Regions from separate parts of the Homo sapiens genome. Here region 2 is linked to region 1. Evidence: fine-mapped QTL for protein levels in blood plasma. A gene starts in region 1. The other region holds a variant in brackets. All regions are shown on one strand. Distances are between the middles of the regions.

Region 1 (2,841 bases):
TCAGCACATCCAGCAGCCAGAGGGTTTACAAAGGGCTCAGTCCCTTCGGGGAGGCTTCTGGTGAAGGAGGATCGCTAGAACCAAGCTGTCCTCTTAAGCTAGTTGCAGCAGCCCCTCCTCCCAGCCACCTCCGCCAATCTCTCACTCACCTTTGGCTCCTGCCCTTAGGGTTACCTGGGTTGCCAAGCCTTGTCTGAGATGATCCAGTTTTACCTGGAGGAGGTGATGCCCCAAGCTGAGAACCAAGACCCAGACATCAAGGCGCATGTGAACTCCCTGGGGGAGAACCTGAAGACCCTCAGGCTGAGGCTACGGCGCTGTGTAAGTAGCAGATCAGTTTTTTCCCTTGCAGCTGCCCCCAAAATACCATCTCCTACAGACCAGCAGGGACACTCACATCCACAGACACAGCAAAGACACAGACTGGCAGAGCTAGCTGTAAATGAGGAAAGACTCCTGGAGTCAGATCTCTTGCTCATTTCTCTTTGAGCAGGCGTTGGGGGTGGCTGCTAGGCATTTACATGTGAAATTTGCAAACAGCTTTCCTGTTATTTGTGAGTCATTTGTGGGTTATTAACTACTCCCCTCTCTCTTCATAAAAGGAGCCCAGAGCTTCAGTCAGGCCTCCACTGCCTCTTTGTAACTAGACCCTGGGCGGGGAGCTAAGGTTCCCAAGCAGAGGAAACATCATTCACCTCTTTTAATCTCAATGTTTTGAAAGCAAAGCTCTAAGAAGGGCCCAATTGACTGACAGGATTTCCCCTGGCATTTTAGAAGGGACAAGGGGGCTATTCATCCCCAGGCTAGTGTCTATGAGTAATTCCTCCAGGTAATTTATTTCTCCAACTGAAATGATGCCCTCACTACTAATGGTTTCCCCTGTTCTGTCACCAATATTGGAAAATCAGTTGGTGTCTATTTGTAGGACAAGGCTATGTGAAGGGTTTGGTCCCAGTAGCTTCCCTCCTCAGATGCTTAGAAGTGTTCCTCGGTGGCTGTGACTGACGGGGAGGAACAGGAGAGAGAGGCAGAAAAGGACAGGCTGAAGAATGCCTCGCTCAGCACTGCAGGAGATACTGTAGAGTTCTGGGGGAGGAAGGAATCCCAAGACCTGGGTTGTCATCCAAGCCTTGCAAACATCTTGGAGTGAGTCCTGGAGAAATACATTTAACTCCCAGGGCCATGGAAGCAGGGCTCAGTTCTCTCTGGGAGCTGTGAGGCAAGGCATTTGGATAAATCTGGCCTCCTCATGATGCCACCAGCTTGTCCCCTAAGTGTGATGGACATGGAGCTGGAAGCCAGGATCACCAACACTTTCTCTTTTCTTCCACAGCATCGATTTCTTCCCTGTGAAAACAAGAGCAAGGCCGTGGAGCAGGTGAAGAATGCCTTTAATAAGGTGAGCTTGGATGGTGGCAGAGAGGGTCTGCAGAGCACAACCCATGCCCACTCCCCAACCCCAAAGCATGGAAGGTGGTGGGGACTCAATAGGCCCCATTCTTCATTGGAGAGAGTGTGGGAACCTGACAGATGGTATGACCTGCTCAGCCAGTGAGGAGCTGCTGCCTTGATTGTATTTGTTTTCTGTTAAGTGTCTTTGGGGGTTTCTAAATGACTGCTCGCTGCCTTTGCAGGCTTGCGGGTTAGGCTGGCCGGCCAGCCTGTGAACACAGTGAGCTGCATGCTGGGGAGAGTGACAAAGGAAACAGAAAGTACAGAAAGTAGCTTGTTGGGAATCTAGGCTGAACCCACACGTGCAGGAAGCTGGCACATAAATGTGCACATACAAATACACCTGGGGGTTCAGCCCAGACTCCCCAGAACTCAGAATGAGCAGGAAGCTGGATTCTCACTTAACCTGGAGTTGGTTCAAGCCCGCTTTCCATCTGCCCTTCGCACCTGCGGAGGTGCCTGAGAATGTCAGTTCCCAAACGAAATGGGGTTTCACACTTCCAACTGTGCGTGAACTTTTTCAGTCTGATTTCCCAGAAACCGTGCGGCCTATGTCCTCCTCGTGGGCTGGGGACAGACACTGCACAGAGTGCCAACATCAGGGGGTGTGAATTTCTCATAGTAGGTCAGGGCGGCAGGGCAGGGCCTGCTCAGTGTGTTGGTGGGAGAACACAGACATTTAAAAGGCTCCCTCCTCTCCTCTCACCGTCTTGCTTTCGAAGCGCTTCCTCTAATGTCTTTTCATCAAACTCTGCATAATCATCATGTGAATACGTGACCTTTAAAATTGTTGAAAAGGCATCATTTTGAAGACAGTGCTTTGCAAAATGAATGCTCCCCTTGCTAGGGGGAGGCCTGGAGGAGATGAAGGTCAATGCACAGCCTTTCCCAAGGCAGCTAGGCCTATCCTCTGGTTTACTTCCCAGCGTGAGGGAGAACAAGCAACCTCTGCACTCAAGGTCATGCCCATCCATGAGCATGAGGGAGGGGAGCCTATTTAGTCCCCAGAAAGGATTTTAACTGTATGTTTCTTATCTCTCTGCACAGCTCCAAGAGAAAGGCATCTACAAAGCCATGAGTGAGTTTGACATCTTCATCAACTACATAGAAGCCTACATGACAATGAAGATACGAAACTGAGACATCAGGGTGGCGACTCTATAGACTCTAGGACATAAATTAGAGGTCTCCAAAATCGGATCTGGGGCTCTGGGATAGCTGACCCAGCCCCTTGAGAAACCTTATTGTACCTCTCTTATAGAATATTTATTACCTCTGATACCTCAACCCCCATTTCTATTTATTTACTGAGCTTCTCTGTGAACGATTTAGAAAGAAGCCCAATATTATAATTTTTTTCAATATTTATTATTTTCACCTGTTTTTAAG
Region 2 (8,450 bases), 73 kb before region 1:
AGAGTACTGCCACACTACTGCCAGTGTTCCCAAGGGCTCTTCAGTCAGCTTGTGGTGAATGCTTCTAGGCCTGGGACTCACCCTTCATGGCTGTGGGCTCCACTGTTCCCCAGGGCAGGTTCAGAAATGCCATCCAAGAGCCAAGTCCTAGAATCAGGGACCCCAGGAGCCCAGTTGGTTCTGTACCCCATTGTGTCCAAGCTGGTACCTAAGGTGCAAAACAAAGTCCCCTTTACGTTTCCCTCCACTTTTCCCAAGCAGAAGAAGTCTCACCCCATAGCTACCATAGTTAGGAATGTGCTGAGTCTCATGTGAAGCCAGCAAGTCTCAGAGTCTCACCCAAGGCCGTCGACATAGTACCTGGATATCATTGCTGGTTATTCAGGGCCCAAGGGCTCTTCAGTTAGCCAGTGATGTATCCTGCCAAAACTGGGTGCTTCCCTTCTAGGCAACTGGTTCCCTTCTGGCCCAGGGCGTGCCTAGAAATGTCAAGTGGGAGCTAGGGCCTGGAAAGGGGGCCTCATGACTGACCAGTGCCCTATCCTTCTGTGGTTGAGCTGGTATCCAAGATACAAGACAAAGTCCTCCCTACTCTTTTGTCTCCACTCCTGAAGTGGAAGGAAGGAGTCTCATTATTTTGAACTATGAGCTGTGCAGCCTGGGGTTAGAGGAGGGGTAATGCTGGTACCACTTTAGCTGCCTTGGTTGATGTCTCAGTATATTGTGTGCATTCACACCCTAGTCTGCTGGCTCTGGGCCCAGTTCAACACTAGTACTTGCCTAGGAGTTGCAGTCCTTCTGGCCTAGACTGAATTTCAAGTTTATTTGGAACCCCAGAGCACTTTAGCCCACAGTGGTAAGGCTTGCAGAAACTCAAGTTCTGACTGTTGGGGTCAGTGACTCCCCTCTGGGTAGGGCTGGTTTAAATCTCCCTCCATGGGTGGCCATCAGGTGAATGTGTTCCAGTTTTGCTTTCTCCTGTAACAAGGACAGTACTGATTTCAATGCCTCACAATTGCTGCGCTCTCCCTCTCCCCAGAACACAAAACTGCTCTCTGCACCACACTGCCACTGATGGGGGATTGGGGACAGGGTGGCATCAGCGATTCAAGACTGTTTTTCCTACCTCTTCAGTGCCTTTTTCAGCAGTATGAAGTTTCAGCAGTATGAACATGTGTGGCTATTAACAATTTGCTCTGGAAGATGGAAGGAGGATAGAGCATCCCCAGGAGGAGCCCAGGCCTCAGCTGGGCCGGGAACATTGCGTGACATACTCAGAAGTTGGCCTCTGCTCCTTTGCTCTGTGTATGTCCATAATTTCATGTGTAACTTCAGAAGCTTGTGGCTAGTTAGTCCAAGCCCCTTTTGGTGCATCTGGGTTTAGTTATCTTCATTGCTGGCATTCAACATAGTAACCTGGGCCCTAGGTTATACAGTCTTGTCCAGGATAAAAGGAACTCCCCTAGCAGCAAAAGGAGAGGGCACCAAAGCCAGGAAGATGGGGCCTGGATTCATTTTCTGGATCTGCCATCCCAAAGCTTTGTGGACTTGGGCAAGCTCCCCCACCTCCCTGAGCCTGAGATGCCTTCACTGACCGTGTGAGGATAAGAACTCCAACCCCCTTGGCTTCCTCTGAGGCTTGAATGAGGTCCTATGTGTAAAGTACCTGTCATGGCCCTGGTGCGTGACATGGATTCCCTCCCCTTGCACCTTAGCAGTGGAGGTGAGCTCCAGATTTTTCAAGGGTACCTACTAGGGGCTGACAGAGGACTCAGCATGGTTTGGGAGATAATGTTACTCTTGGCTTCTTAGCATGTATTTCTTAAGCACCAGCTCTGTGAAGAAACACACACAAACACACACGCACACACACACACACACACCCCACTATGCCAGAACTACTGCGAACTCAAAAAGCATTGGGACATATTCTTCAAGTCTGAAAAAAGAGAAAGGAAAAGTAGACGGGGAAAGGAAGCAAACAAGAGACCTAGGAGAGTTTTAAGCAAGATACTAGCCATTTCAGAAAGGATGAGCTCTTCTTCAATTATCTTCCTCCTGCTCCTCCTCCTCTCCTACTAGTACTTCTACTACCATTGATAATAACAATATTTCCTACAGGTGCAGGTCATTATGCCAGTAAATCACCTTCTCTTGTGGGCTTCTTGTCACATGAGCAAGATGCACAAGCCACAAACCATCATGATGGAGGGCTCAGGCTTTGGAGTAGGACACCCGGAGTTTGAATCTCTGTTGTACAACTAGAAACATGGCCTTAGGTGTATTGTCAAACCTCACTAATCTCCAGACAATTTTTTTTTTTTTTTGAGACAGAGTCTAGCTCTGTCACCCAGGCTGGAGTGCAATGAAGCAATCTCAGCTCACTGCAACCTCTGCCACCCGAGTTCAAGCAATTCTCTTGCCTCAGCCTCCCCAGTAGCTGGGATTATAGGTGCCCGCCACCATGCCTGGCTATTTTTTCTATTTTTAGTAGAGACGGAGTTTCACCGTGTTGACCTGGCTGGTCTCGAACTCCTGACCTAGTGATCCACCCACCTCAGCCTCCCAAAGTGCAGAGTTATTCACATTATAATTATAATCGTACCTTAGAGAACTATCGTGAGGAGTAAAGGAGGAGCCATAAGTTAAGTTCTCACCTTGGTGCCTGGCACATGATGAACTCAACATATGTACATTATTGTGGACATTATAGTTCATTCTGGAATGTGGCTGCCTGGATTGGAAGCTCAGCTCTTCTACTTATGCGATATGTGGCCTAGGGTAAGTTACTTAAGCTCTCTGTGCCTAGTTTCCTTCTTAGGGTTTAATTATCCATACTGCTAACAATCAATGAGGTGGCCTTTTTCATTTTATTTCATTCTAAAAACCTACAATAGGATTGTTGTGAGAATTAAATGAAATATATATATATGTATTTATATTATATTATATTACAAGAAGTGTATTTCTTAGACTATCGGCTGGCATATAGGAAGCACTATATACATGTTTGTGGTTATTCACATTTCTTGAATAAATAATCTAGGTGAATTGTGAATTTAACACCTACTAAGTGCCAGGCAGTGAACAAACTAAACCATCCCTACACTCATGAAGCTTACATTCATGTGGAGGAGCAGCTAATAAACAAAATAGGATGCTAGATAAACAGGAAAGGGGTACAAAGTGTGCTGAAGGTGGAAATGGGGGGTTATCCTCCAATACGAGACCTTTGGAGTGAAGGTCTGAAAGACGTGGAGGTGCAAGCCATGCAGGTGTCCAGGGGAAGCACATCCCAGGGCAGTGATAAAAGATCAGAAATGCTATAACTGCCATCACCCAGCCTGCTCAGGGTGGGTGCCCATCCAAGGTCACTTTGGAAAAGTTAGGTCCTCAGCAAACAACCCTGCTCCCTAATAGCGTATGAATCCCATTAACGCATAATGTGTGGAGGGTTTGTTTTATTTTTTAACCCTACCTCAGTTTATGAGTGTGCATGTACACAAAGTGCATACACTGTATGGTGAGAACATGCCTGGTGTGTTTGCGAAACACAGAGCAAACAACTATGGCTGGGTCACAGTGAGCCTGGGGAAGGAGCAGGGACACAGTTAGGGAAAACAGCCAGGAGGGGTGTGTGTGCAGATATCAGGGTTGTCAAAGCCCTCATAATGACTCCAGCTTTTAAATGATTATAGAGGCAGGTGTGGTGGCTTAAGTCTGTAATGCCAGAACTTTGGGAGGCCGAGGAGGGAGGATTGATTGAGCTAGGAGTTTGAGACTACAGTGAGCTATGACCATGCCACTGTGCTCCAGCCTGGGTGACAAAGTGAGACCCTGTCTCCATAAATAAATAAATAATTATATGGAGCAGGTAGTACAGAAGGGTCAGTATCCACAATACTAACAACTAAGGACCAAAGAAATGTACTGACCTGCCCTGGGAAATTCATGGCAGGAGATGCCTTAGAACCAGAAGGTGGCCCCTGAGTCGGCAGTCTTTATATTGCACCGTGCTGTCTCCCACCCTGCTGAGGTCATGAGAGACCTTTTCCTTACTCGATGCTCACAGCAACACTACAGGACTGGTGTTAATATCTCCACTTTACAACAGAGGACACTGAGTCTTAGAAACGTTAAGTGCTTTGTTCAAAGTCACATAGGATTGGAACCAGATCAATTGGACTTCAGAGGTCTTGTTCTTTCCATTAAAGCATGTGATATGAAATCTGAAAGATACACATTTGTGCTCTGAATCATCTATGCAGTGTCCATCTAGATGTTGGTACCCTTTTCAGCCTCTCTACCCAGTGGCCTCTCTACTTACTTGTGTCTGTGCTTGTTCAGCTTTGTCACCATGACAACCATCCCTCTGTCAGAAACACCCTGTCCTCAGTCTTGACTGACTCTCCCTGAATGAAAAGATCCTTCCATTCATAGGTAAAATATGGAATTTATTCAGAAAAACCACTCAGTACAATGTGTACTACAGGATATCACTTGGCTCACATCACAGACATGGACTATATGACTTTACAATAAATTAGATGGGAAGGCAGCCCTTTACTCCCAGGATGGCCTGCAGGCCCTTTCAGCAGATAGAGTTTATTACAAATACCACAGTAGACTTTTTGGCTATTTTCAAGCGGAATAAGACAGCCTGAGGCCAGCCAGTGGGACTTTCAGCTGCAAGGGGCCTTCCCCATCTCCTTCCCCTTCAAGGTGGGCTGTCTCCCACAGTAAACCGCACAGGGGGTGTTCATCCCTGGATCACTATACAGGTTCCTTGTCATCAAGCTGAG[A/G]ACATTACTTCATGATTCTTATTAATCCAGGCTAGAAAGACGTCGAGCTCTCCCAGGGATTTAATGGCAGCAGCGTGGACCTCCAGCTGAAATCAGAGATCAATGTAAGAACCCACCTTTCTAGACTGTGTAATGGTTTTCAAGTCACTTTCTTCATATGCTGGTTCCCACAAGGTTTTGTTTCTGTTTTTGTTTTTTTGTCACGAAATATATTTGCATAACATACAGACTCAATATTATTTTCCTCGCAGGCAACCAATTTTTTTCCCCACAAACAAGTAGTTAAATTATGTCAGCTCCTTATAAACAGAACTTTAAAATTCTTCATTCTTTTCCCTCAGGTTTTTTTTTCCTCTGTTTTTCACAGGAAAAAAAAATCTGCCTTACTGGCCAGTTCCGCTGATTTTCTTCTCCACACCAGCTTGCTTTAGTGCTTCTGTTATCCCAGAACATCTTTGTCCCTGAGGTGCTGGACAGTGGGTAGGGAGAGCATGTTGTCCTCATTTGACATATTAGAGCACTAAAGCCCCTAGAGCAAGTGTCCTACCCAATGTCACACAGCCAGTTAGTAACAGAGCTGGAAATGAAACCCAAGTCTCCTGCCTTATTCCACCTCCTTCCTCAGCAGACTGAGTTCATGCTTTTAGCGCGTCCTGTAGAGCCAGCCAGCGTGGAATTGAATCCTACCTCTGCCGTGCAGTTGCAGTGTGAACTTAGTTTAGTTACTTTACCTGCTCGAGCCTCAGTTTCTTAATGTATCCAATGCAGATAATGACTCATAGCATTGTTGGGAAGGACGAATGTGTGTTAATACTTGTTGTGTGCCTAGAGCAATACCTGGCTTATAGTAAGAACCATGTAACTCTTAGCTATTTCTATAACATTATCTTACAGAGTCTCTCCACAAAGAAGCAGAGCCCATAACAGACTCCCTAACTCTTGCTCTTCAAAGCATTGGTATCATTTGACAGTGTGATCTAAATGCAGAAACTCAGGCTCATCCCAGCCCTGCTGAGCCAGAATCTGCATTTTAACAAGATCTTGAACTGATGCTCATGAGAAACACTGCTTCTTCCTCTACCTCCACGTGAGATGTGCATTTTACACCAACATCAACATGAGAAGTACCATGTCTTCATCACTACACACAATATGGGGGGGCAGGTAGTGATCGCAGTGACGGCGTGCAGGTAACACGTTTCAGGCGTAACAGCTCACATTTCATGGGGGATCTTTGCTCCCTCTGTGTCATCCCATCTTAAGCAGTGGGTGCTTTCCCCAAATCATACAGGTCAGGCTTGATATATGAGGGTATGAGAAAATGGTGGAGGAATGATGGAGATGGGGAGCCCAGGAGATTAGCAAATGAGGTAAAATCAAAACTCTCTTTACAGACACAGAGAATTGAGGCCTGCCCACAATGGCTGCTTATAGAGTGAATGCATGAATTTAAGTGGAGAGGAGGCTGAAGGCCTGGCACCCTCCTGATCTACCTCTCATCTTCCATCTTCCCCAACCTCTTCCCAGATCTTACCTGATCATAGTTGTCATGGATGACTCTGGTGGCATTGGTGGCTTCCTGCCTGCAGTGACACTGCCTCTGTTCCTGCTGTGATAAAGTGGAGGAAGCTCCTATCAGAGGACATTTCCACTCTGGCCCTCTCTTACTCCTGCCTCCCCACATGAGAAGTGACATTTCTCCTCCCTCCCACAGTGAGAGTCAGATGAGTAAACTCAGGTGGGAGCAGCCACGGAAGAATAGAGCTTGTCTGTAGAGTCACCTGCATCTGCCCACGCCTTTTGTTTTTTCTGCATTTAGAACACATCAGACTGTCAGCACTAGGAAAGCAGGCACCATATCTGTCTTATCACCACTCTGAGTGCTGCATCCCACAGGGTAGGCACTCAACAAACATTTGTTAAATGTTAATTATTAATTAGATAATTAATTTTAACGAATTGTTAATTAAACAACTGGTTAGGTGAATTTATTTGAGTCCATTATCATATTAATGCAAGTAGGACAGGGGCCATCAACTCTTCTAACAATTTTAGAATCCGAGGCACAGAGAGGTGAAGTCACTTGCCACAAAGTCTCACAGGAAATCATTAGCAGGAATGGGGCTAGAGCCCAGGTTCTCTCCTGGTCTAAGTTTTTGTTGGTTTGTGTTGGTTTTGTTTCTGATGTTGGATTTAAATAGATCGCAATGAATTTCTAAGTAACCTTTAGGGATAGGCCATACCAAGGAACTACCCAGAGGTTTATTGATGTAAAGACACCAAAGGGCCAGAAATAAAGAAACCAGGGGTATGCTTACAGTAGAACTGGAGTCCTTGCCATGCCTCTTACTAAGGAATATGTTGACATAAGTTGGTCACCCCAGGAGGGTTATCTAGGAGGAGACCATCTGAGGAGTTGTCAGCAGGCAGGGAGCCCTGGGGAAGCAGTGGCCACTGGGAGAGGTTCTCCACAGTTCTCCCTGTGGACGTGCGCAGAGAATTTCCTTTGACTCCAAGCACCATATCAGGAGGCCGATGGGGGCCAGCACTTCCTGGCCTCTCCTTGGGCAGACAGGGAGCAGATGCTGGAATTCTGACCCAGTGACTCACACATTGCCGCAGAGTTTTCTGCATGTAGAGGAAAGAGTTGGCAATGCTGCTGATTTTTCTCAAGATTTTGGGGTTTGGCTCCTGATGATCCTTGAACACCCTGTCCACGTAGAACGCCAGGAGGTTCTTGGTCACGCAGCACACATCTAAGGGCTACAAACACAAATTAGGGAAACACTAGAGGCCTCTTCTCTCATTATGTTGGAGACCAGGGCAGTCCATTTGAGTAGGGGCAGCGACACATGAGAGAACTAAAAGTCATTTTGGAAAAATTCGTAATGGTCTCAGAGTGTTCATCCTCTCTTATTCCCATCAAAGCTACTTATGACAAAAATAGTGAGAAGAGATTCCAGTTCTCCCCTTTTTCTGTATGGCCGAGAAATACATTTACTAAGGATGGGGCCCAGAATCCATCATAGGCTAATTCTCTCTGCAGTATCCCTAGCGTGTCATCACTAACTTCCACTGAAATCTTTCCAGGAACCAGTTGCCTCCTTTTTAAAAGGACTGATGGCTGAGCAGCTTTCTTGAAAAGAACTTCCCTACACTACAGGGGCTGAAGTTGCCTCTCTGTTATGTCTCCCATCTGCCAACATGCAAGGGCTGTTGCATGCCAGTCATCCTGCTAGGTATGCATTCCTCCAACTGTAATCACATTGCATTCATTCTGGCCACCTTACTCTGGACCACACTGCTCAGCTCTCCTGTAGTCTGTCCTTTTAAAACCAGAAAGGTCATTGGAATGAGGCTGAGATTTGCAAGAGAGACCGACAGCTGCAGAAATGGGCATATTTGGGTAGGTCTGCAGCCTGCAGAGTGCAGATGTCCCAAAGAAATAGTCTCTAAATTCCCAGGCACAGCCCAGTGAAGTTGGCTAGACAGTTTCCTTCTAGAAGTTTGCCCGCCATCTGCCCTGAGAGCCAGTTACTCTGCAGAAGATTAACTGTTCAGTCTAAGCAGGGAGTGGTTAACGGTGGGACAGCACACCCATCTTCATTCAAGAAGCAAAGCCTCCTTGGCCCCAGTGTCAGCTTTTCC

Alleles and levels. Alleles are on the strand shown, and positions count from the first base shown. The strength of an association depends on the size of the effect and on how common the allele is.
For the plasma level of the protein whose gene starts at base 455 in region 1, allele G in region 2 goes with a higher level than allele A (strong association).

What was found. PIP is the posterior inclusion probability: the model's chance that the variant is causal. The UK Biobank Pharma Proteomics Project read protein levels with antibody pairs (Olink). The fine-mapping took linkage between variants from a reference panel, not from the people measured, so its PIPs are less certain.
Region 2: its variant is fine-mapped to the plasma level of the IL19 protein (UK Biobank, PIP above 0.99). The variant lies in the coding sequence of IL19. If it changes the protein, the assay may bind it differently, which can mimic a change of level.

Annotation. Positions count from the first base shown.
Region 1 is chr1:206,768,387-206,771,227 of GRCh38, reverse strand. It overlaps IL19 (interleukin 19), which reads right to left and starts at 455. Exons shown (of 7, transcript NM_153758.5): 1 at 150-455. IL10 (interleukin 10) reads left to right here. Exons shown (of 5, transcript NM_000572.3): 3 at 169-321; 4 at 1,334-1,399; 5 at 2,500-2,841. The coding sequence ends at 2,592. RefSeq lists enhancers at 105-294, 1,855-1,964.
Region 2 is chr1:206,838,965-206,847,414 of GRCh38, reverse strand. IL19 (interleukin 19) reads right to left here. Exons shown (of 7, transcript NM_153758.5): 5 at 7,413-7,565; 6 at 6,337-6,411; 7 at 4,434-4,888. The coding sequence ends at 4,793. LOC105372878 (a long non-coding RNA gene) reads left to right here and starts at 4,594. Exons shown (of 3, transcript XR_922482.3): 1 at 4,594-4,906; 2 at 5,697-5,992; 3 at 6,197-6,375. The variant A/G (reference allele first, on the strand shown) is at 4,803.